Linked DNA regions of Homo sapiens: region 1 is linked to region 2. The links come from fine-mapping of genetic effects on gene expression. A gene starts in region 2. The other region holds a variant in brackets. All regions are shown on one strand. Distances are from middle to middle. Region 1 holds the start of SCAMP3 (secretory carrier membrane protein 3). Region 2 holds the start of HAX1 (HCLS1 associated protein X-1).

What was found.
Region 1: its variant is fine-mapped to the expression of HAX1 in sigmoid colon (GTEx, PIP 0.98).

The regions. Positions count from the first base shown.
Region 1 is chr1:155,262,184-155,270,183 of GRCh38, forward strand. It overlaps SCAMP3 (secretory carrier membrane protein 3), which reads right to left and starts at 177. Exons shown (of 9, transcript NM_005698.4): 1 at 1-177. It overlaps CLK2 (CDC like kinase 2), which reads right to left. Exons shown (of 13, transcript NM_001294338.2): 3 at 7,305-7,533; 4 at 6,525-6,612; 5 at 6,110-6,176; 6 at 5,827-5,943; 7 at 4,546-4,712; 8 at 3,677-3,771; 9 at 2,462-2,591; 10 at 2,285-2,367; 11 at 2,038-2,117; 12 at 1,767-1,857; 13 at 685-1,217. The coding sequence ends at 1,035. The variant G/A (reference allele first, on the strand shown) is at 4,859.
Region 2 is chr1:154,269,187-154,284,327 of GRCh38, forward strand. It overlaps HAX1 (HCLS1 associated protein X-1), which reads left to right and starts at 3,443. Exons shown (of 7, transcript NM_006118.4): 1 at 3,443-3,590; 2 at 4,150-4,412; 3 at 4,588-4,775; 4 at 5,764-5,815; 5 at 5,968-6,074; 6 at 6,207-6,297; 7 at 6,430-6,689. The coding sequence starts at 3,538. The coding sequence ends at 6,515. UBAP2L (ubiquitin associated protein 2 like) reads left to right here. Exons shown (of 27, transcript NM_014847.4): 27 at 1,014-1,661. The coding sequence ends at 1,109. RefSeq lists a silencer at 3,059-3,199 and an enhancer at 3,337-3,506.

The sequences.
Region 1 (8,000 bases), 990 kb after region 2:
CTCCACGCCCCTGCCGCAGCAGTGGCGGTAGCGGTAGCCCTCAGAGTCCACTTCACTCGCCTCAGTTCGCCCCGCTTCTCTGTGCACGGATTGGTTCCACCGACCGGAAGGGCCACAAGGATCCCCGCAGCAGCCGTGGGTTGCGCCTGCGTCTTGTCCAAAAGCTAAGACGAAAGTGCCCCCACGTGATACCTCTAACCCAGTGCCCACAACCAACTACCGCCCCTCTTCCATGTGACTTCCTTCCACTAACGAACTACACTTCCCAGCAGGCCTCGCGTAGGAATCCGGCCTTCCTAGTCTCCCGAGATGGACGACGGGAGCCTTCTGACCGGTCGTGGCAATCCCCCCTAGGAGCCAGGTTGAGCACGTTTTCAACCTGAGTTTCTGGCTCTATACTGGGCCGCGGCCTAATGACTCTAGGAGTCAGATCTTTCCCAACTCTCATAATTCCACATCCGAGAAGTGCCACCTCATAACACTTCTCTGTTTTAATCTGAAAGAAATGCTGCCCCACCCATCACTACCCTCCCATATGATAAGGTGGACAGGGGAAATAAACTGGTAGCCTGGCTGTGCTTCATTTTGGAGGGTAAGGAGGACTCCCTTCATACCCAAACTCAGAAAGTTTGCCAATAGTTTCATCCCTCCACCCCAGCATTCCCAAACCTCCAACTCCAGGGATGGGGGTCAAATGAAGCACGTTATTTTATTTCACAAAGACTGTACAAAATTCCTTATAAAACATGGGGTAGATGCCACCTGGTTACCTCACTCGGCCCCCATCCAACTCCGTATGAGGGGGCAGGTGAGGGTGGAAACTGTGTGGATGGAATAGTATTATGTACAAGGCAGGGGTTGAAGTGATAGGTACAAGTTCTTTCATATTTACACTATTTCACATATTCACAGGTATATAGAGAGCCAGGAGGAAGGAGTGAACTCTGGCTCGTTCTCTTGTATAAAAAAGCACCAGTGTCCTGGACTGGACACCCACTGCTATAAAAGATGCAGGGGGGCCCAGGGCCTGATCGTCACCGACTGATATCCCGACTGGAGTCCCACAACTTGTTGGGCGGCTCAGCCCGAAGGCGGGCGAAGAAAGGATGCTGAAGGGCTTCACCCAAGGTCAGCCGCTTAGCTGGTTCATACTCTAGCATGCTTTCAATCAGATCGAAGAGCTGGTGGTGTTCCTCTGCCTCTGAGGTCAGATACCGCTGGTGGAGGAGGGCAGGAAAAAGGTGAGGCAGGATGCCTTACAAACCCTGCCTTCTTCAAGACCCTACCTTTCATTCTTGGAGAACCAAGGCTCTGCTTGCAACCAATTTGAAGGCTACCTAACCACGACCACACCAGGACCAACGTTTCTGATATTATAGCTCAACCTACCTTCCCACTAGCACAATTACTCCATAATCTTTGAAAGTTCTTTCTACTTGTATATCCTTGTCAACTTCATGAATCTTCTTTAGTTCCTCATTAAAATGTAAGCTCTTCAAAGGTAGTTTATTCTTTTCTGTCTGACCTAAAGAATCCAGGACATTGCTTTGATCTCTGGTTGTCTCAAGGTTAGGCTGTCTAACCTCCTTCCCTCCACAAAACCACTCCCTCTTATGTTTCCTCTGTTGACCAAAGATGTCTTCTTTCAGCTTTCCTCCCCTCCTTTCCTAACCCTCTGCTTGTGAAGAGCATTCCAGGGGGCAAACCACCCTAAGAAGGAAGTGACTTCTGGACGGTGGGCACTATTTATCCCGAGCCCAGCTCACCCGCAGCGGTTTGCAGTTCTCACGAACATAGCGCCCAGCTGATGTGTTCTCATCCCAATCCAGGCGACCCCGGTAAAAATATTTCTGCTTTCTAGAGGGGAAGGGGAGGTTGAGGAATCAGAAGGTCACCCTTGTTACAATTCCCTTATTTCCCCATCTGAAAGTAACTGGGGGGAGAGGAGGTATCAAAGAAAAAAGAAAATGATGTGAAATAGACCAATTCTGTGGAGAGAAAAGGAAAAGAGTTAACTAGTGCCCCCTCAAGGTTCACCTTGTCTTTCGGATCATCCGGGAAGGGATAGGACCCAAGATCCTTTCCATCATGGCTAGATGCTCTCTGTTGTCATGGGTCTGGGAAACAAAAACAGAACTGAGCATGGGACTGAAAAGGGCATGCTAAGGATCAGCTGCCAGGAAGGCAGGCAATGTGGAGAACTGAGTAGGCAGGTCCTCAGCAGAAAACAAAGGAACCAGGTAGAAGAATGCCAGGCAGTCAAGTAAGACATCCCATCACTTACCTGGAAGAGGGTGAATCCCACATAGTATTCAAAGATGATGCAGCCTATACTCCACACATCACAAGGCTGTGACCAGCCCAACTCTGGGTGAGAATGGGAGGGAAAAGGTGTTATGAGGCTTAGGTGGCCCCACCCTCACATCATCTCACACACTTGGACAGCCTTGCCCTCCCTTACCAAGGATGACTTCTGGTGCTCGGTAATGGCGAGTGGAGACAATGGTGCTATGGTGCTCATGGTCAAAGGTGGCACTGCCAAAGTCTACCACCCGCACAGCTGTGCTCTTCACACTGCGCTCATCTCGCTTCTAGGAGCAGAGGAGAAAGAGGATGAACCTCTGCACCCAGACTGAGATTCCACCAGTATTCTCTACATTGCTTCTGAGCCTTAAAAAAGGTACTGTGATCTCCTGCCTGGCCTTACAAGCCCTGGGAAATTCCTGTTTTACAGCTTCCACCACATCCAGCATAATACTTTTAGAAGTAGGGGAGCAAAAGGATTAAGAAATGATTATAGAACAGCGTGCACATCTGTAAGCATCTGAAGACTACACTCAAGTGCCAGATATATAGTTATTCTGAAAACATGTAACATGTAGCAAATGGGTTTTTCTGAAAAAATGTAACATGTAGCAAATGGGTTTTTCTGAAAAAATGTAACATGTAGCAAAGGAGTTTCTCTAAAAATATGTAACATGTAGCAAAGGGGTCAAAGGAGGGAGAGCTTCTTTAGGTCTGAGATCTCCATTATCTCCAGTTAGTCAAAGGAGCCGAGCTTTCCTACCTCACAGAAATACACATCTCAAAAAAGAAGTCCGGGCCAGGCACTGTGGCTCACACCCGTAATCCCAGCATTCTGGGAGCCCGAGACAGGCAGATCACCTGAGGTTAGGGGTTCGAGACCAGCCTGGCCAACATGGCAAAACCCCATCTCTACTAAAAACACAAAAACTAGCCAGGCGTGGTGGCGGGTGCCTGTAATCCCAGCTACTCCAGAGGCTGAGGCAGGAGAATCACTTAAACCTGGGAGGTAGAGGTTGCAGTGAGCCGAGATTATGCCACTGCACATCAGTCTGGGCAACAGAGTGAGACTCTGTCTCAAATAAATAAATAAATAAATAAATAAATAAATAAATAAAGTCCAAACCAAGAACCTTAAAAACTTTCACTCTACTGGAAAGTTATCTGAAGTCCCCTGTACAAGTTATCTCCCAATTTAAGTCTTCTTAAGAGATTTCTCCCTTTCAACCTATTTAGTTTTACCCAGTTGGAGCCAGACAGGGAGAAAATGTGGGAGGACGAAATAAAAGGGAGAAAACAAAGGGCTCGGCAGAAGGCAAAGTGGTGCAGCTGCCTGCCCCCAGTAACCAAGGGCAGACCCTATCCATCTTACCTTCTCTAGGTTGTAGGTGAGCTCATAGTCTGAATTCACAAACAGAATATTTTCAGGCTTGAGGTCTGTATGTGTCAGCTTGTTATCATGGAGGACTGTAGGGGAGAAGGCCAGGTCAGGCTTGGTGCAGGTGGCCAGAGCTAACTGGTATCAGCTGACCCCAGGCCTGGTTACCTAGGGCAAAGCCAGTGAGGAGACAGGTCCAGAATCACTAGGGCTGCTTTCTGCTCTACGTCTAAATGGAATGCCTGGTCTAAGAAGCTCTGCTCTTTCTAATGTAAGATACATATGTAGCTCAACTGATGTAAAAAAAAAAAAGTTTGCTTTGAGTTGTAGTGTGTACACACTTTGACATGTGTCTAGCTGGCATTATGTTAACTCAATTCTGTGAAACTGTATTATTTTGATGACTCCAGAGGAATGATATATTTCTTTGAATTCCCCACCTTGCCCCTTAGCTGAACTACATACTCTGTGTTCCCATCTCCTTTGCTGTGAATGAACATCTCATCCCAGACAAATGTAAGCCTTTACCCTAAGGAGTGTATTTTTGTCTCTTTATGTTTGCTGTCTGACTGATGCTTTCCCAAGAAAGGGAGAAAGGAAAAGGGGAGGGTAATTAAGTGCTTTGATTCCAAAGGCTTTCTCTTCTAGCTGCTGCTAGGCTAGGTGTAGAGTAAGAGCAATCAGTGACGATAAAGACATCAGTCAAGGAGTTAAGTCAGAAGACGTTTCAAGATGACAGTAAATCAAAGAACTGCAGATAACAGACAGCTGACTGTTTAGGGGCTTCACCAGTGCACAACCGACAGAGAGATCCAATGAAGGGAGGGACTGCCCCAGAGTCCACTTCGGCCCACCCCACTCACACTTGACAGCCTGGCACAGCTGGAAGGCCATGTGGCGCACTTGGTGGATGGGGTAGGGCAGGTAGTTGTTGTCTTTGAGGAAATCGAAGGTGCTAAGGCCCAGAAGCTCAAAGGAGATACACATGTGGCCATGGTAGTCAAACCAGTCAAACATCTGGACACAGAGGCTGAGAAGAGAGATGGGGGAAGGGGGGTTGTCTGATGAGCTCCCATCTGCCCATCAGCCATCCAACAAGGAGGTACTTCATAGCTGTTGATTCCACATACTTGTGTAAAACCATGCCAGCTAGTACTAACACCAAAATTCAGTTCA[G/A]CTAAGGAGTAGCCTCTACCAGACCCAAGAAGAATGGTACTATCTGCCAGGTTTTTTTCTTTTTTGTTTTTGAGATGGCGTCTCACTCTGTCACCCAGGCTGGAGTGCAGTGGCGCGATCTTGGCTCACTGCAACCTCTGCCTCCTGTTCAAGCGATTCTCCTGCCTCAGCCTTCCAAGTAGCTGGGACTACAGTTGTCCACCACCATGCCCGGCTAATTTTTTTATTTTTAGTACAGACGGGGTTTCACCATATTGGCCAGGCTGGTCTCGAACTCCTGACATTGTGATCCACCCGCCTCGGCCTCCAAAGTGCTGGGATTACAGGCGTGAGCCACCATGCCCAGCCCAAGTTTCAAAATATCTTCCTGCGTCATTTTAAATAGTTCAAAAACTATTTGCTGAAGAGCTGTGGAGTGCCAAGCTCCAAACAGTATAGATCCTGAATCATCAAACTGTCCATCCTAAATCCCAACCCCAGCCCAACTCCTGATATTCATTCACCACTAGCTACCACTGGGCTCCTATTTATACCTACTGGCCTCATATCTTGGCTTAAAGTCCTTATTCTATTTTTGGACTGTGAATGTATGTGAACAAAATATTACTGCATAAATGTCTGTGGCCTTATCAGCATAGTTCTACTTATAAAAGCTTAATTCATTGTTCGATGAGGTTGATGCTCAGTCCTAGGGCTATGTCCAGGGTATATCTCTACAGAAGCCATTCTAGGCTGGGGTCAAACGACAGAGCAATCTAACTTCCCTGAAAACAAGGGGAGTGGATTAAGGAATGTCATGGGCCCCCCCCCTTTCCTACCCTGATGTTCTACTACTCTAAGATGATGAACAAAAGATGAATGGATGAGAAGGTCTAGGACTCCCCTGTCTGCCTAAACCAGGTCTAGAAGTCTCTCCCGTGTAGGGGTTGGGGCTCTCAGCCTCCCTACATACTTCCTTGCTTGCTTACTTCTTGTTGTCAGGGTCTTTCTCATTGATTTTCTCTAGCACGTTGATCTCAAGTCGAGCTGCTTCCTTGTACTTCTCCACATTCTTAATGATCTTCAGGGCAACTCGAGCCCCACCCCTGTAAGTTGGCAGGAGAGGCTTTTGCTGGGTTCTCAAGAATGTCTCAAAATGAACAGGGCTGTAGGGGGACTAAGAAATTCTACCTCAGGTTAATTAGCAAAAAAGCCCCATATAACCCCAACCATCTCTTTAGCCCCACATAGTAGGGAGGGACTGACAGTTACCTGCGATGGTCAACACATTGTACAACTCGGCCGAAGGTCCCCTCTCCTAAGGTGCTAACGATTTCATCTGAAATGAAAGAGAGCAGGGTCGGGGAGAGGGAGGGAGAGAAGGTGGGGAATGAGCTGAGTTGGAAGAAAAAAGGGGACAGCAACCTGGGGTGGAGATGAAGGAAGGGGAACAGATACAGATGGTCACAGGGGAAGAAAACCCCTGCGTGATTCCCACCACCTTTAACCCAGGGGCCGTGAGAGCTGGGAGTGGACAACAGAGGTCAATTCTCAACAGCAACTCAAACCACCCAGATAAACAACACCACTGAGAAAAGGCAAGAGGCTGTGACTCAGGTTGGCTTGGGACGTTAGGATGGCTATGGGACCATTACAGGCTATAGGATTGTTACGATTTGGCTTGTACATCGCTCTTGTAGCCAGTCCCCGACGTGGTAGATGAGGTGGCCCTCAGCGTCGTCCTCTACACTCTTGGCTCTCCGGCTGCTGTGCTGCTGTCGGGGGGCAGGGGGGGTCGGAGCAAGCCAGGTGTCGGAGCGGGGGCCGGAGGGAGGCGGGGTGGGTGGTAGAGGGGTCACCGGTCACAGGCGCCCAGCCAGGGGGGACAGACGATGATGGGGGACAGTGGAAGGGAACACGTCAGATGCAGTAAGGTGGATCGGTGTGAGAAGAGAGAGCGGCGCATAATCCCAAGTCCCCAAACCCAAAACAGGAACAGGGAGAGGCATGGGCAGAGCAGAGAAGTGGTGTTGTTGCCAATGTCACCCACAACCCCATGCTCTACACAATGCCCTTCCGGGCAGACACAGATCTCCCCTTGCCCCCACCCAAGCCCGCCTGCCAAGGGGGCTACAGAGCCCAGGGCTTGGGGGAAAAAGGCAGTTCACAAGCAAGGTCCCCATTAAAGAGTGGAGGCCGCTGGGGCGGAGAAGCTGCTCCCAACACAATAAGCCCAACATGCCAGGGAGAGCACTGGGGGTCACAAATGCTCCGTGCCCATCCATCTCCAAAGCAGATCCAGGGCCCTTCAAGAGTCGGAGAGCTTCCAAGAAAGTAGGCAAACTCAGTGCCCACCTCAGTGTTCATGCCCCAATGTTCAGCTGAGAACAAGGATACTGCTCACTTACCAGAGTCCTAGAGGGCCTGCAGAAGAGTGGGGAGAGGAAGGGCCTGGGCTGGCACTCACCGAAGATGAGCGGCTAAATGTCCGGCTGCGCCTCCTCCGCCGTCTGTGCTTCCTCCGGCTGCTGCGCTGGCTGCGGTAACTGCTGTTCTCCCGCTGATATTCATAGGAATGCCGATAGTCTGTGTCATAGTAGGCATCTCCCCGATCCCGGCTATAATCGTTGCGTCTGTAGCTGCCACAGTATCGCCGGTCATACACCCTCCGGTCGGACGAACGATCATCATAACTGCTGTTGGATAACAAATACCAATGAGGTGTATCTGTTCAGATCACATTCCCTACCATACCCTGTGACAAGGTCCTGCCTTAGTGAGGACAAAGAGTAATGCTAGAAAACTGTTCTCAGACACTTGTTGAGTCACTGAGAGGACCAAGGGACCAGAGAAGTGAGGTAACAAGCACATCTGCCATGTCACCAAAACCTCTGAAAAGGCATCTGCAGAACCACTCCCTATTGGGGCCTTTTTCCCGCTGCAGTGATACAAAGAAACAAAGAGCCATTTTTTTCTCAAGCTTTCCTGAATGAAATCCCCCCTTGCTCTAAACCATCCTTAACCCATTCTTTCCACTGAACATACCACTAAAATATTAAAACTGGGCCGGGCACAGTGGCTCACGCCTGTAATCCCAGCACTTTGGGAGGCCAAGGCAGGTGGAGCACTTGAGGTCAGGAGTTTGAGGCCAACATGGTGAAAT
Region 2 (15,141 bases):
GCCCTTCTCCTCCTGTGCCACAGTTGTCCTCATCCCATCAGACCTGGGTCACACCTTCCCTCTTTCCTCTCCCAGCCTTCCCTCTTCCCTGACATTTTAGCTTTCCCTTCTAATGGTGGAGTTCTATTGTCAAAGTTTGTCCCTTTATTTTCCATATATCCTGGTTCTGCCTCAGCTACCATATTTGCAGATGATTCTCTGTTGCCAGCGCCAGCAGGAGGAGCAGGTAATGAAATTGAATGATCATATGCTTGAACCCACTCCTTTTCAGTCCCCATTTCACCTTCACAGCCTCAGGGAACTTGAAAAGACTGCGCGGTCACAAATCGGGATACACAAACACAAACACCTTGCTGAGCTCTCTGGCCTCCCCTTCCTCTCTCCTCCTCCCCTCCCCAACACCCTCTTTATCTTTGTACCCTTCCCCAGCTGTGGAAAACATTCGGTTACCAGAATGGAAAAGATTCTTGGGGCAGCATCTGGAGCCTGAGGCCTCAGACTGCCTCTCATACCTGCCTGAAATGGGCTCACAGATGTGATGTGTGGTAGGGGTGGGGATCTGTGGGGCGATGCAAGTGGCCTCTTGAGAGCTCCATTATAGGTGGCTGGAGCTAGAATAAGGGCTTCCTTCCTCAAAGACAGCTTTCCAAATTGAGGCATTAATGGGGATCAATGGAAATGAAATTGCCTTGTGATCACCCATCTCCAAGAGCAGGGGAGAGAGGGGGTAGTGTGAGAATGTAGAATTGAAAATGAGTAGAACTCACTCACTACCTTGTCTCTAAAGGTATCTTGCCCTCTTCATCTTTTCCCTATTTAAAAGTCAAAAATGCCTTCCTGCTTGTAAGAAAGGGGCTTTAGCAGCTATGCAGACCAAATTTTCTATGGTTCTAATAGTAGTGAGGGGAATGGGAGAGCAAGACAGTTTGCACATCTCCACCTGAAGATGTTACAAATTTGTACCACTAACTAGACACCTTTTTCCTCCTCATGATCCTCCCATTCCCCTGCAGACGGGCAGCGGGCAACGTAGCCAGACCAGCTCCATCCCGCAGAAGCCCCAGACCAACAAGTCTGCCTACAACAGCTACAGCTGGGGGGCCAACTGAGGCCCTGACCCTCTTCTCCCGGTCCCATCTTCTGAGAGGGCTTCTCAGCCTGGAAACTATGGAAACAGCATCAAAGAGAAAGGAATGTGGGGGGTTTCCGCTGCCCCCCACCCCCAGCGGCCCACCCCATGCCTCAGCTTCATGTCTGTCCCATTCCTATACCATCCCCACCCTGTTGTATGTATTATAGGATTTGTATTTTCTCCTTTTTTTTCCCCCTTCCATTCCTTCTCCCCTCTTGCATTCAAGATTATGAAACTTTGCTATGGGCCCTGCACTTCCTTTGCTTCCTCCTGTTCACCCTGGTGGTGTACGGATGAGGCGGGGAGGTGGGACCCCCAAACATATATCAGCCCAACAGCCCTAAGTCTCCTTCTTTATTATTAGGAAAACAACAACAACAACAAACAAAAAAATGGCGTCATGAATATGAACAGCATTGTCAGATGAATTAGTTGAAGTGGTTTTTTTTTTGTTTTTTTTTTTTTTTTGTACTGTGTCCTCAAATTTAATGGATTAATGTGTCTTGTATATATAAAAAGAAAACCTCTACCTTCAGCCTCTGCCTATTCTTGCTCCGTCTAGGACATCCTCAATTTCGTCGATGACCAGCTTGGTGAATAAGTATTACTGTACCAACTGGGCCTCCTCTAGCAGGCCCCTGAAGGCAGTGGAATAAAATGAAATCTTCGCCCTTTAAGAACTCCTGACCTTAATGTGGTAGTAGTATCTTGTCCTTGAGGGGATTTCCTTCCCCTCACCCCTAAGACTTTCACAACCTGGTGACTGGAAAGAACCACCACAAATCTTCATTTCCTCCAGAAACTGCTACATCTACAGCCGATTTCAGGCAGTAAAGGGAGAGGGATAGAGGAGATTGGGTGGAAAATGGAGAGGATCAAGAAGGAGCTGAGACCATTTCAAAGAAAAAAAATGCTTTATAGAGTTTTAAGTATGACTTAGATGGGTCCAGGCAAATAAACTAAAAAGAAGTGAAGGCAACATGTATCGTCTGGCAGAACTAAATCTTGGAGTGGGGTGAGGGATGAAAGACTACATATTGGGTACAGTGTACACTGCTCGGGTGATGGGTGCGCTAAAGTCGCAGAAATCACTAAAGAACTCATCCATGTAACCAAACACCACCTGTACCCCAAAAACGAAATAAAAAAACAAAACCTTGGGGCCCATTCCCCCTAGGAATGGACTACTGTAGTAGTGGCTTCTTGGATGCTTCTCTGTGACATAGCTATACCCAATTCTTTGAAAAAGAATCTAGAGCAAGGTCTGGCTTGGGGATGGGGTACAGGGAGAGACAGGTCTCGGAGAGGTTTTGAACAAAACACTTTTAAAAAGGAATGAGGACAGGCGCTTTGGGAGGCTGGGTTGGGCGGATCACCTTAGGTCAGGAGTTCGAGACCAGCCTGGTCAACATGGTGAAACCCCGTTTCTACAAAAAATACAAAAGTAGCCGGGCGTGGAGGCGCATGACTGTAATCCCAGCTACTCGGGAGGCTGAGACAGGAGAGAACCTGGGAGGCGAAGGTTGCAGTGAGCCGACATGGTGCCACTGCACTCCAGCCTGGGAAACATGAGAGAAAACTCTGTCTCAAAAAAAAAAAAAAAAAAAAAAAAAAAAAGATACCAAAGGGATATTTCTTTATAACCCCCAATTTGTTCCTTCTCAGGACTCAACTAGCTTCCCTTCCCTTGCTTTCTTAAAAATCCTTTGTCTTGCTGGTTGCAGAGCCTGCTTAGAAAAAAGAATTCTATATAGTTATAACAAACTCCCTAGTAGCTAGAGAGGTGGAGGAAGTTAAGTCCATGCGTCTCTTATGTCTTGATCTCTTCTCTGGGAAATTCAATACTAGAAGGAGCTTGGAAAAGCATTTTGTTCATCCCTCTAACAGCAGACATCGCCCAGGTCAGTCAAAAAGAACGCCCGAGTAAGGAGCGAGGTGGCTTCTGCTGTGAGGCTGGCCAGCCCCGCGGGTGGGGTGGTTGAGGGACGCCCTCAAGCCGGTCCATTTGTGCGGCTGGGCTGCCCTCTGGCGGCTTTATCCGGGTGCCATCCAGAGTCAAACCCTCGAAATCGCTTTTCGTACTGAGTTGGTCTGCAGAAAGAAGAACAGATTTAGGAGGAAGGCGGTCATAGGAAACTGAAAGTGCGTCACGCCCACTCCCGTCACGGAAACTGGTCTCTGAAAGGTGGGGTAAAGATAAAGCCTTTCAAATTTGAGGAAGACCTTCGGTCCCGCCTCCATTTCACGTCCGGCTTACCGTCGTTTACGACAGTGTCAGGATCGCGGGCTTGCTTTCCGGTAGCGTGGGCTGACGCCTCGCTCAATTTCTCACAGGGCTGCGCAGGTTTCCCCCGTCTGCGAATGGACCACTGGAGGGGTTCAAAGGTTCGCGTCCCAGTACGGGAATGAGCCTCTTTGATCTCTTCCGGGGCTTTTTCGGCTTTCCTGGACCTCGGAGGTGAGAGTAGGTCCGGCTCGGACAAGGGTGGGGGTCGTCTGAGGGGAGCTTGACCCCTACGTCTTATTTTTGGAAAAACATCCTCTGTCCCACTCCTTCAACTCCTGCAGAGAGGACAGAAGTCGCAACATTGAACACTCACCCCGCCACAGTAACCAAGGCGGTCATTAAGAGGAGAAACAGCAAACTAAGCCTTTCTCCAACCTGGGGTGATGCAACAGGGACCCGGGCGGGGAAGACCGTGAGGGTCTGGGGAATAAGACAGTGAGCAAGTGAGCAGGACCTTGGGAGAGAGAGGAGGGACTGGGGCACACTGAAGAAAAACTGGGGGAAGGTGTATGAAGGGAGCTGCGAGCTGAGGTCTGACTTTGATTAAAAAAAAAAAAAAAAAAAAAGAACTGTCAGCCATTGTATTAATGTTTTGATGTGGCAGCCAGTCCTCCGACCCTCTCCCTAGCTTCCCAGACCCCTTGCTCTTGTCCCACTTTGCCACCCATGAGTTGATTTAATGGCTTAAATAGTGCTGAAATATTGGTGGCCAATCTGCCTCCACTCTCAGCCACAGAGATCCCTTTTTTGGAGGGATGACTCGAGATGAAGATGATGATGAGGAAGAAGAAGAAGAAGGGGGCTCATGGGGCCGTGGGAACCCAAGGTTCCATAGTCCTCAGCACCCCCCTGAGGAATTTGGCTTCGGCTTCAGCTTCAGCCCAGGAGGAGGGATACGTTTCCACGATAACTTCGGCTTTGATGACCTAGTACGAGATTTCAATAGCATCTTCAGCGATATGGGGGCCTGGACCTTGCCTTCCCATCCTCCTGGTGTGTGGCTTTCCCTAAGGGGCAACCTGTGGTTTCTGGTGGGTTGGTGGGTGAAATAAAGAGCCTGCAGGGAGTAGCTGGGGGATGGGAAGTGTGAGAAGACTGATGATTTCAGAGAGATTAATAGAGCCCAAGTCCTTTCCCATCCCAGCAAACACCTGCCACCTTTCTGCAGAACTTCCAGGTCCTGAGTCAGAGACACCTGGTGAGAGACTACGGGAGGGACAGACACTTCGGGACTCAATGCTTAAGTATCCAGATAGTCACCAGCCCAGGATCTTTGGGGGGGTCTTGGAGAGTGATGCAAGAAGTGAATCCCCCCAACCAGCACCAGACTGGGGCTCCCAGAGGCCATTTCATAGGGTGAGTATCCCATCTGGTCCTGAAGTGAGAGCTTGTGAGAGACCACTAATAAAGTGCAAAGACTGGCTAGGTGCGGTGGCTCACGCCTGTAATCCCAGCACTTTGGGAGGCCGAGGTGGGCAGATCACCAGAGGTCAGGAGTTGGAGACCAGCCTGGTCAACATGGTGAAACCCCGTGTCTACTAAAAATACAAAAAATTAGCCGGGCATGGTGGCAGGTGCCTGTAATGCCAGCTACTCAGGAGGCTGAGGCAGGAGAATTGGTTGAACCCAGGAGGTGGAGACTCCATCTCAAAAATTGTTTGAGACCCAGCCTTGCTCTGTTGCCCAGGCTGTAGTGCCGTGGCACAATCTCAGCTCACTGCAACCTCCAATTCCCAGGTTCAAGTGATTCTCCTGCCTCAGCCTCCTGAGTAGCTGGGATTACAGTCGCCTGCCAAACGCCCAGCTAATTTTTGTGTTTTTAGTAGAGATGGCGTTTCACCGTGTTGGCCAGGCTGCTTTTGAGCTCCTGACCTCAGGTGATCCACCCACCTCGGCCTCCCAAAGTGCTGGAATTACAAGTGTGAGCCATCATGCCTGGCCAAAGATTGCAATTCTTGTTTGAATCTGATAGCCTTGGGTTGGAATCCTAAGCCCTCCATTTAGTGTTTTCTGTTTTCTATATTAAGCTTGTGGGATTTTCTTTGGGGGGAGATGGGTGTTCTGTTTCTTTTAAAAAACAAAAACAAAAAAACACCACTGGTCTAGATAATTCTTGGATAAGGCAGGATTGTGCACAGAGGATAGGAATATATCAGTTCAGGAAGTCTTTCTGGTAGAAGGATACATAAAACAGCCAGGAAGGAGTGTGTAAATAAGGCTATTCTGAATGGAATTATCTCTTCTGTGGAAGGGGGTTTTGGAGCTCGGGAGTAGTTTGAGGTCTATGACCTTTCAAATTTCAGATTGGAAGGAGTCTTTTCACTTACTATGGTTTCTTCTGCAGTTTGATGATGTATGGCCTATGGACCCCCATCCTAGAACCAGAGAGGACAATGGTAAGTCTGGAGGAAGGGGAAGTTTACCAGCCTTTTGTTATTCTTCTGAAGTTCTGTGTGTTCTCCCTCCCTGAAGTTTCTTCCTGTACACTTGTCTCCTTTTTTCCTTTGGACTCTTTCTCTCCTGCTTCTTCATCTCTCTGCTCTTCCAGATCTTGATTCCCAGGTTTCCCAGGAGGGTCTTGGCCCGGTTCTACAGCCCCAGCCCAAATCCTATTTCAAGAGCATCTCTGTGACCAAGATCACTAAACCAGATGGGGTGAGTTGAAAGAAAGAGGTAAAGGAAAGTATGGCCAGGGAACGAATGCCCTGAAACAGGGATCTGTGTAAAGAAACTGCTGAGCATAACCTTTAGTAACATTCGGAATATGGTGGGGACTTCTCTTTGTAGATAGTGGAGGAGCGCCGGACTGTGGTGGACAGTGAGGGCCGGACAGAGACTACAGTAACCCGACACGAAGCAGATAGCAGTCCTAGGGGTGGTAAGTTAAAAGACAAAGGGGTTCATCTCAAGATTCCTTGGGGAAGGGAAATCTTACTCTTCTACCCTTGTCCTTTGCTTCTGCCTAGTCTCTTTCATTTAGCCTATTTACGTGTATGACTTTCTTCCTTAGATCCAGAATCACCAAGACCTCCAGCCCTGGATGATGCCTTTTCCATCCTGGACTTATTCCTGGGACGTTGGTTCCGGTCCCGGTAGCCTTGTTAACCCTCAGAGGCCTTCAAGTCCTTTCCACCTCTCACCCATTGCCCACCATTAATAAGCTTAGCTTCTCTTGCCACCTCAGGGGCTTGGATATGTGGAATAGTGAACTGGGGCCATGTCAGTTTGTCACTCACCCAAACTGACCAATAAAACCTTTATTTATGCTAATTTTTTGTCTTGGTTTTGTCAAGGCTATTTCAGTTTCTAGAACCATCCAACACTTCCGAAATTATCTTGGTCCTCTGCCTTCTCCTTATTCCTTAATTTTTTATTCTGCATCTAAAACCTGATTTCATAAGTAAGGGTCAGGCACAAGTAGAAAATGATTTTTCTTTCTCAAGCAAGAAAAAAAAAAAAAGAGGCCGGGCTCGTTGGCTCATGCCTGTAATCCCAGCACTTTGGGAGGCTGAGACAGGCAGATAACCTGAGGTCAGGAGTTCAAGACCAGCCTGGCCAATGTGGTGAAACTCTGTCTCTACTAAAAATACAAAAATTAGCTGGGCATGGTGGCGGGTGCCTGTAATCCCAGGCTAGGGCAGGAGAATCGCTTGAACCTGGTAGGAGGAGGTTGCAATGAGCCGAGATCACGCCATTGCACTCCAGCGTGGGCGACAAGAGTGAAACTCCATCTCAAAAAAAAAAAAAAAAAAAAAAAAGAAAAGAAAAGAAAAAGAAAAATGATTTTTCTTACTGAGGAGATGACTAGAAATAATTTCAGGAAAATTTCTAGAGAGGGATACATCAGATTCCCAAAAAAAGGGTGTGGGTGTGGAAGTAGGGGTTAACTGCTTCCCTGAGTGTGGGATCACTGACTGGAGAGTTCATGAAGTAACTGGGGAAGCACATGGGTAAATTTCCCTTACTTTACTGGCCTTAAAAAGTTGTTATGTGGCTGGGTGTGGTGGCTCACGCCTGTAATCCCAGCACTTTGGGAGGCCGAGGCAGATGGATCACATGAAGTCAGGAGTTCGAGATTAGCCTGACCAATACGGTGAAACCCTGTCTCTACTAAAAATACAAAAATTAGCCAGATGTGGTGGCACATGTTTGTAATCCCAGCTACTTGGGAGGCTGAGGTAGGAGAATTGCTGGAACTCAGGAGGTGGAGGTTGCAGTGAGCCATGATCATGCCATTGCACTCCAGCTTGAGCAACAAGAACGAAATTCCATCTCAAAAAATTGTTATGTATGTTAGAGAAAATACACCTGGCACAAACGTTACTAGGTCCTTTTTTCTTTTTGAGGCAGGGTCTCATTCTGTCACACAGGCTGGAGTGTAGGGGGCGATGTTGGCCCACTGTAGCCTCGACCTGGGCTCAGTCCTCCCACCTCAGCCTCCTGAGTAGCTGGGACTACAGGCGTACACCACCATGCCTAGCTAATTTTTTTTCTCGTTTTTTTTCCTTTTATTATTATTATTATTTTGTATTTTTTGTAGAGACGGAGTTTTGCCATGTTGCCCAGGCTTCCTTTTCTCATTATAAAAGTTTTTAACCAGGTGTGTTAGACTGTACCTATCATCCTAGCTACTTGGGAGGCTGAGATAGGAGGATTACTTGAGCCCAGGAGGCGGAGGCAACATAGCAAGATCCTATTTCTAAAATATATATATATATATATATATATTTTTTTTTTTTTTTTTTTTTTTGAGATGGACTCTCGCTTTGTCACCCAGGCTGGAGTGCAGTGGCGCAATCTCGGCTCACTGCAACCTCTGCCTCCCGCGTTCAAGTGATTCTCCTGCCTCAGCCTCCCGAGTAGCTGGGACTACAGGCACGTGCTACCACGCCCAGCTAATTTTTGTATTTTTAGTAGAGACAGGGTTTCACCATGTTGGCCAAGCTGGTCTCGATCTCTTGACCTTGTGATCCGCCTGCCTCAGCCTCCCAAAGTGCTGGGATTACAGGCGTAAGCCACCACGCCCCGCAAAATATTTTTTAAAAATTGGCTGAGCAGGCTGGGCATCGTTGCTCACACCTATAATCCCAGCACTTTGGGAGGCTGAGGCGGGTGGATCACTTGAGGTCAGGAGTTCAAGCAGGCTGGGCACTGTGGTTCACACTTGTAATCCCAACACTTTGGGAGGCCAAGGTGGGCAGATCACTTGACGTCAGGAGTTCGAGACCAGCCTGGCCAACATGGTGAAACCCCAACTCTACTAAAAATACAAAAATCAGCTGGGTGTGGTAGTGCACACTTGTAATCCCAGCTACTTAGGAGGCTGAGGCGGGAGGATCATTTGAACCCAGGGGGTGGAAGTTGCAGTGAGCTGAGATTGTGCTGCTGCACTCCAGCCTGGTTGACAGAGCGAGACTCCATCTCAAAAAACATAAATAAATAAATTAGCTGAGCATGGTGGCCCACATCTGTAGTCTCAGCTATTCAGGAGGCTAAAACAGGAGGATCCCTGGAGGCTGGAGTTCGAGGCTGCGGTGATCTATGATCACACCACTGCATTCCAGCCTGGGCGACAGAGTGAGACCCAATCACAACAACAAAAGCTTTTAGTACTGTGGTTAAGAGGGGCAAATCTGGGGCCAGTCACAGTGGCTCACACCTGTAATCTCAGCACTTTGGGAAGCTGAGCGGAGAGGATCAATTGAGACCAGCCTGGGCAACATAGGGAAACCCTGTCTCTACAAAAAAATTTAAAAATTAGCTGGGCATGGTGGTGCATGCCTGTAGTCCCAGCTACTCAGGGGTCTGAGGTGGGACGTTGTCGAGCCCATGAGGTCAAGGATGCAGTGAGCCATGACCATGCTGCTGCACTCCAGCCTGGGCAACAAAGTGAGACTGTCTCAAAAAAAAAGGCCGAGAGTGGTGGCTCGCGCCTGTAATCCCAGTACTTTGGGAGGCCAAGATGGGCGGATAACTTGCTGTCTCTGCTAAAAATACAAAAATTAGCCAGGCAAGGTAGTACGGGCCTGTAATCTCAGCTACTCGGAAGGCTGAGGCATGAGAATCACTTGAACCCGGGAGGCAGAGGTTGCAGTGAGCCGAGATTGCACCATACACTCCAGCCTGGGTAACAGAGCAAGACTCCGTCTCAAAATATAAAATAAAAAATAAATATTTAAAAAAAAAAAGAGTGGTGGCCGGGCATGGTGGCTCACGCCTGTAATCCCAGCACTTTGGGAGGCTGAGGCGGGTGGATAGCCTGAGGTGAGGAGTTCGAGGCCAGCCTGGCCAATATAGTGAAATCCCGTCTCTACTAAAAATACAAAAAATTAGCTGGGTGTGGGGGTGGGCGCCTGTAATCCCAGCTACTAGGGAGGCTAAGGCAGGAGACCCTCTTGAACCCAGGAGGTGGAGGTTGCAGTGAGCAGAGATTGTGCCACTGCACTTCAGCCTGGGCGACAAAAGTGAAATTCCATCTCAAAAAAAAAAAAAGAGAGTGGTAAATCTGACATATTTATTTACTTCTGTTTCCTCTGGAAATCCCACTAAATTATGACAAAGGGATTTCTCTAAAGAGGTATATCACAAGAACAAAGGACAGGAGATGATAGTAATGAAGCTCTGTCTTTTAATTCTCTATTGTATCTTTTGGTGAACAGAAGTTGATTTATTGTAGCCTAATTTATCTTTATAAGTTTGTGTTTTACGTTTAGGTTTTTAGACCTACCTGGAATTTTTGTTTGTATATGGTATTAATTTGGGTCCAATTTGGAAAAAATATGCACAAATATATAAATATTTCTTTTTAAAAAACAAGGTTGGGCACTGTGTCTCCCGCTGGTAATTCCAGCACTTTGGGAGGGATAGGTGGGAGGACTGCTTGAGCACAGGAGTTTAAGACCAGCCTGGGCAACAAAGTGAGACCCCCCCACCATCTGTACAAAATAAAAATTAAAAAATTAGTGGGGCATGGTGGCATGTGCCTGTAATCCCAGCCACTGGGGAGGCTAGGGCAGGAGAATCACTTGAGCCCAGGAGTTTGAGGCTGCAGTGAGCCATGATCACGCCACTGCACTCCAGGGTGTCAGAGCAAGACCCTATCTCAAAAAATAAATAGGCTGGGTGCGGTGGCTCATGCCTGTAATCCCAGCACTTTCGGAGGCCAAGGCGGGGGGATCACGAGGTCAGGAGTTCAAGACCAGCCTGACCAACATGGCGAAACCTCGTCTCTACTAAAAATACAAAAATTAGCCAGGTGTGGTGGCGCATACCTGTAATCCCAGCTACTCAGGAGGCTGAGGCAGGAGAATCGCTTGAACCCAGGAGGCAGAGGTTGCAGTAAGCAGAGATCATGCCACTGCACTCCAGCCTGGGCGAGAGGTGAGACTCTGCCTCAAAAATAAATAAATAAATAAATAAGTAAATAAATAAATAGGCCGGGTACGGTGGGTCACGCCTGTAATCTCAGCACTTTGGGAGGCTGAGGCAGGTGGATTACCTGAGGTCAGGAGTTCAAAACCAGCCTGGCTAGCACAGTGAAACCCCATCTCTACTAAAAATACAAAATTAGCCGGGCATGGTGGTGGGCACCTGTAATCCCAGGTAAAAATAAATAAATAACTAAAACAGCCCCAAAACAATAGCAACAACAACACACACACATGCACACACACAACTGTGCTGGGTCTTTCTATTCTATTAGTCTATTTGTCTATATTTGTGCCCATATCATACCTTAAAATACTATAGTTTTATTTAGTAAAACCAGTCTTCCTACCTTTTTATTATTTTTTAACCCTTCTATTGTATAAAAATACAATTGTTTTTTCTAATCAGCTTTTTAGAGTACCATCACAAATATAAATGGAGCTAAAAATCACCAGATATGTGAAGAAAGCATTTAACATGAGTGGTAGAGACAAACGAAACAACTTGAAAGAAACAGAGACTATGCAGAGAGATTAAAAACTTTAAATGTACACAATTTTTTTTTTAGATGGAGTCTTGCTCTGTTTCCCAGGCTGGAGGGCAGTGGTACAATCTCATCTCACTGCAACCTCCACCTGTAAGTGGAGGCTCAGGCGATTCTCCTGCCTGAGCCTCCCGAGTAGCTGGGACTACAGGCTCAAGCCACCACACCCGGCAATTTGTTTTTTTTTTTTTTTGAGACAGTCTCACTCTGTTGCCCAAGCTGGAGTGTAATGGCACGATCTTGGCTCACTGCAACCTTCGCCTCCCGAGTTCAAGTCATTCTCCTGCCTCAGCTTCTCAAGTAGCTGGGATTACAGGTGCATACCACCACGCCTGGCTAATTTTTGTATTTTTAGTAGAGACGGGGTTTCACCATGTTGGCCAGGCTCTTGAATTCCTGACCTCAGATGCCCGCCTCGGCCTCCCAAAATGTTGGAATAACAGGCATGTGCTACTGCGCCCAGCCTACATTTCTGAGTTTTTAATGGAGACAGGCTTTCACCATGTTGGCCAGGCTGGTCTTGAACTCCTGACCTCAAGTAATCCACCCACCTTGGCCTCCCAAAGTGCTGGGATTACAGGCATGAGCCACTGCACCTAGCCTATTGATTCATATTTCTAAGCACTATAAAGATGTATGTACTTGGCCGGGTGCAGTGGCTCATGCCTGTAATCCCAACAGTTTGGAAGGCTGAAGGGAGAGAATGGCTTTAGCCCAGGAGTTGGAGACAGTCTGGGCAACATAGTGAGACCCGTCTCTACAAAAAATTAAAGATTAGCCAGGCAGGGTGGTGCACACTGTAGTCCCTGCTACTGGGAAGGCTGAGGTAGGAGGATCGCTTGAGTCCAGGAGTTCAAAACTGCAATGAGCTATGATTGTGCCACTGCACTCCAGCCTGGGTGACAGAGTGAGACTCTGTCTCTAAAAACAGAAATAAAACCCACAAATGTGATAGAGTTCAACTCTCCAAAGTTGAACTCTCCACAAAGTAAACAAAATAACTGATCAAAAAATAAGAGAAAAAAGGCTGGACGCAGTGACTCACGCCTATAATCCCAGCACTTTGGGAGGCCGCGGCGGGCGGATCATGAGATCAGGAGATCGAGACCATCCTGTATAACACGGCGAAACCCCATCTCTACTAAATATACAAAAAATTAGCTGGGCGTGGGGGCGAGTGCCTGTAGTCCCAGCTACTTGGGAGGCTGAAGCAGGAGAATGGCGTGAACCCAGGAGGTGGAGTTTGCAGTGAACCGAGATCACGCCACTGCACTCCAGCCTGGGAGAGAGAGTGAGACTCCATCTCAAAAAAAAAAAAAAAGAAAAAAGAAAAGAAAAGAAAGAAAAACATAAAACTAGAACGGCATAAATTATCAATGAAATAAGTCATGAAAATATTCCAGAATTGAAGAATATTACTTAATTTTTTTTGAGACAGAATCTCACTCTGTCACCCAGATTGGAGTGCAGTGGCACAATCATAGCTCATTGCAGCCTCGAATTCCTGGGCTCAAGCAATCCTCCTGCCTCAGCCTGAGTGGCTGGGACTATAGGTGTGCACCACCACACCCGACTAATTTTTGTTTTTTGTTTTTTGTTTTGTTTTGTTTTGTTTTGTTTTTGGTAGAGACGGTGGTCTTGCCATGTTGCCCTGGCTGGTCTCCAACTCCTGGGCTGAAGTTATCCTCCCACCTCGACCTCTCAAAGTGCTGGAATTACAGGAAAGAGCCACTGTGCCCGGCCTGAAGGATATTACTTTCTAACCTGAAAGGACTTGCCACATGCCAGACACCAAGGGTGAAAATAAACCCACTCTAAGGCATGCCATATGAAATTTTAGAACACTGGAGACAACAGAGTTTAAAAGATTCTAGAGGGAGAGAGAAAGAAAAATGGGGCACATGTTCTCAGGATCTCCTGAGGGCTGTGTCAGTGGATAACAAAATAACCTAAAGGATCAAGAATCATAATATTCTCAAACTTTATCAGCAACACAAAGTATAAGACAATGGAGATCCAGCAATCCAGCTACTAGGTATATATTCAAGGCAACTGAAATCAGTATGTTGAAGAGATACCTGCACTGCCATGTTCACTGCAGTACTGTTCACAATAGCTGAGAGTAGGAATCAACCCAAGTCTCCTGCAGTGGGTTAATGGATAAAGAAAATGTGGCATATATACACAATGCAGTACTATTCAGCCTTACAAAGGAATGAAGCCTGGCTCGGTAGCATGCTCATGTTGTCTCAGCTACTCAGGAGGCTGAGGCAGGAAGATTGCTTGAGCCAGGGAGTTCAAGGTCAGCCTGGGCAACATAGCGAGACGTCATCTCTAAAATAAAGACATTCTTTACAGAAAAAATAGAAAACAAAGAATGAGATCCTGTCATTTACAACATCGATGAACCTAGAGCACATTATGTTAAGTGAAGTAAGCCAGGCACAGAAAGACAAATACCACATGATCCCACTTATATATGGAATCTTAAAAAAACCTCATGCAGGTAGAGAGTAGAATGGTGGCTACCAGAGACTAGGGGGTGGTGAATGCTGGGGAGACATTGGTCAATGGATACCAAATTTCAGTTGGACAGGAGGAATAAGTTCAAGAGATCTATTGTACATCATGGTGACTACAGTTAATAACAATGTAGTTGGCTGGGCACAGTGGCTCATGCCTGTAATTCCAACACTTTGGGAGGCCAAGGCAGGAGGATCACCTGAGGTCAGGAGTTTGAAACCAGCCTGGCCAACAAGGTGAAACCCCATCTCTACAAAAAAATACAAAAATTAGCCAGGCGTGGTGGCACGTGCCTGTAATCCCAGCTACTCGGGAGGTTGAGGCAGGAGAATCACTTGAACCCGGGAGTCGGAGGTTGCAGTGAGCCGAGATTGCAACACTGCACTCCAGCCTGGGTGACAGAGCGAGACTCCGTCTCAAAAAAAAAATAAAAATAAAAATAAATAAATAAATAAATAAATAAATAAATAAATAAAATAAAAATAAAAAGTACTTGTCTACATTGGGAAGATGGAGGAACCAATGCATATATTTGTTGTGGGCAGTGCAATATGTAACTAAATCCTTATCTTCCATACTGTAAACACAATAATTAGTTTCTTTTTTTCTTTTTTTTTTTGAGATGCAGTCTCATGCTCTGTCCCCCAGGCTGGAGTGCAGTGGCACAATCTTGGCTCACTGCAAGCTCTGCCTCCCAGGTTCATGCCATTCTCCTGCCTCAGCCTCCCGGGTAGCTGGGACTACAGGCACCCGCCACCACGCCTGGCTAATTTTTTGTATTTTTAGTAGAGACAGGGTTTCACCATGTTAGCCAGGATGGTCTCGATCTCCTGACCTCGTGATCCGCCCGCCTCGGCCTCCCAAAGTGCTGGGATTACAGGCGTGAGCCACTGCGCCCGGCCAATAGTTAGTTTCTAAAACAAAAAGTAAGTATCACTGTAAGCATATTTAGGTATATAATGGTAAATATTAAAGAAAATATTTTAAAAGTTGGTAATGGTTGGCCAGGGCTGGTGGCTCACGCCTGTAATCCCAGCACTTTGGGAGGCCAAGGCAGATGGATCACCTGAGGCCAGGAGTTCAAGACCAGTCTGGCCAACATGAAGAAACCCCATCTCTACTAAAAATACAAAAATTAGCTGGGTGTGGTGGTGCACACCTGGAGTCCCAGTTATTCAGGAGGCTGAGGCACGAGAATCAATTGAACCCAGGAAATGGAGGTTGCAG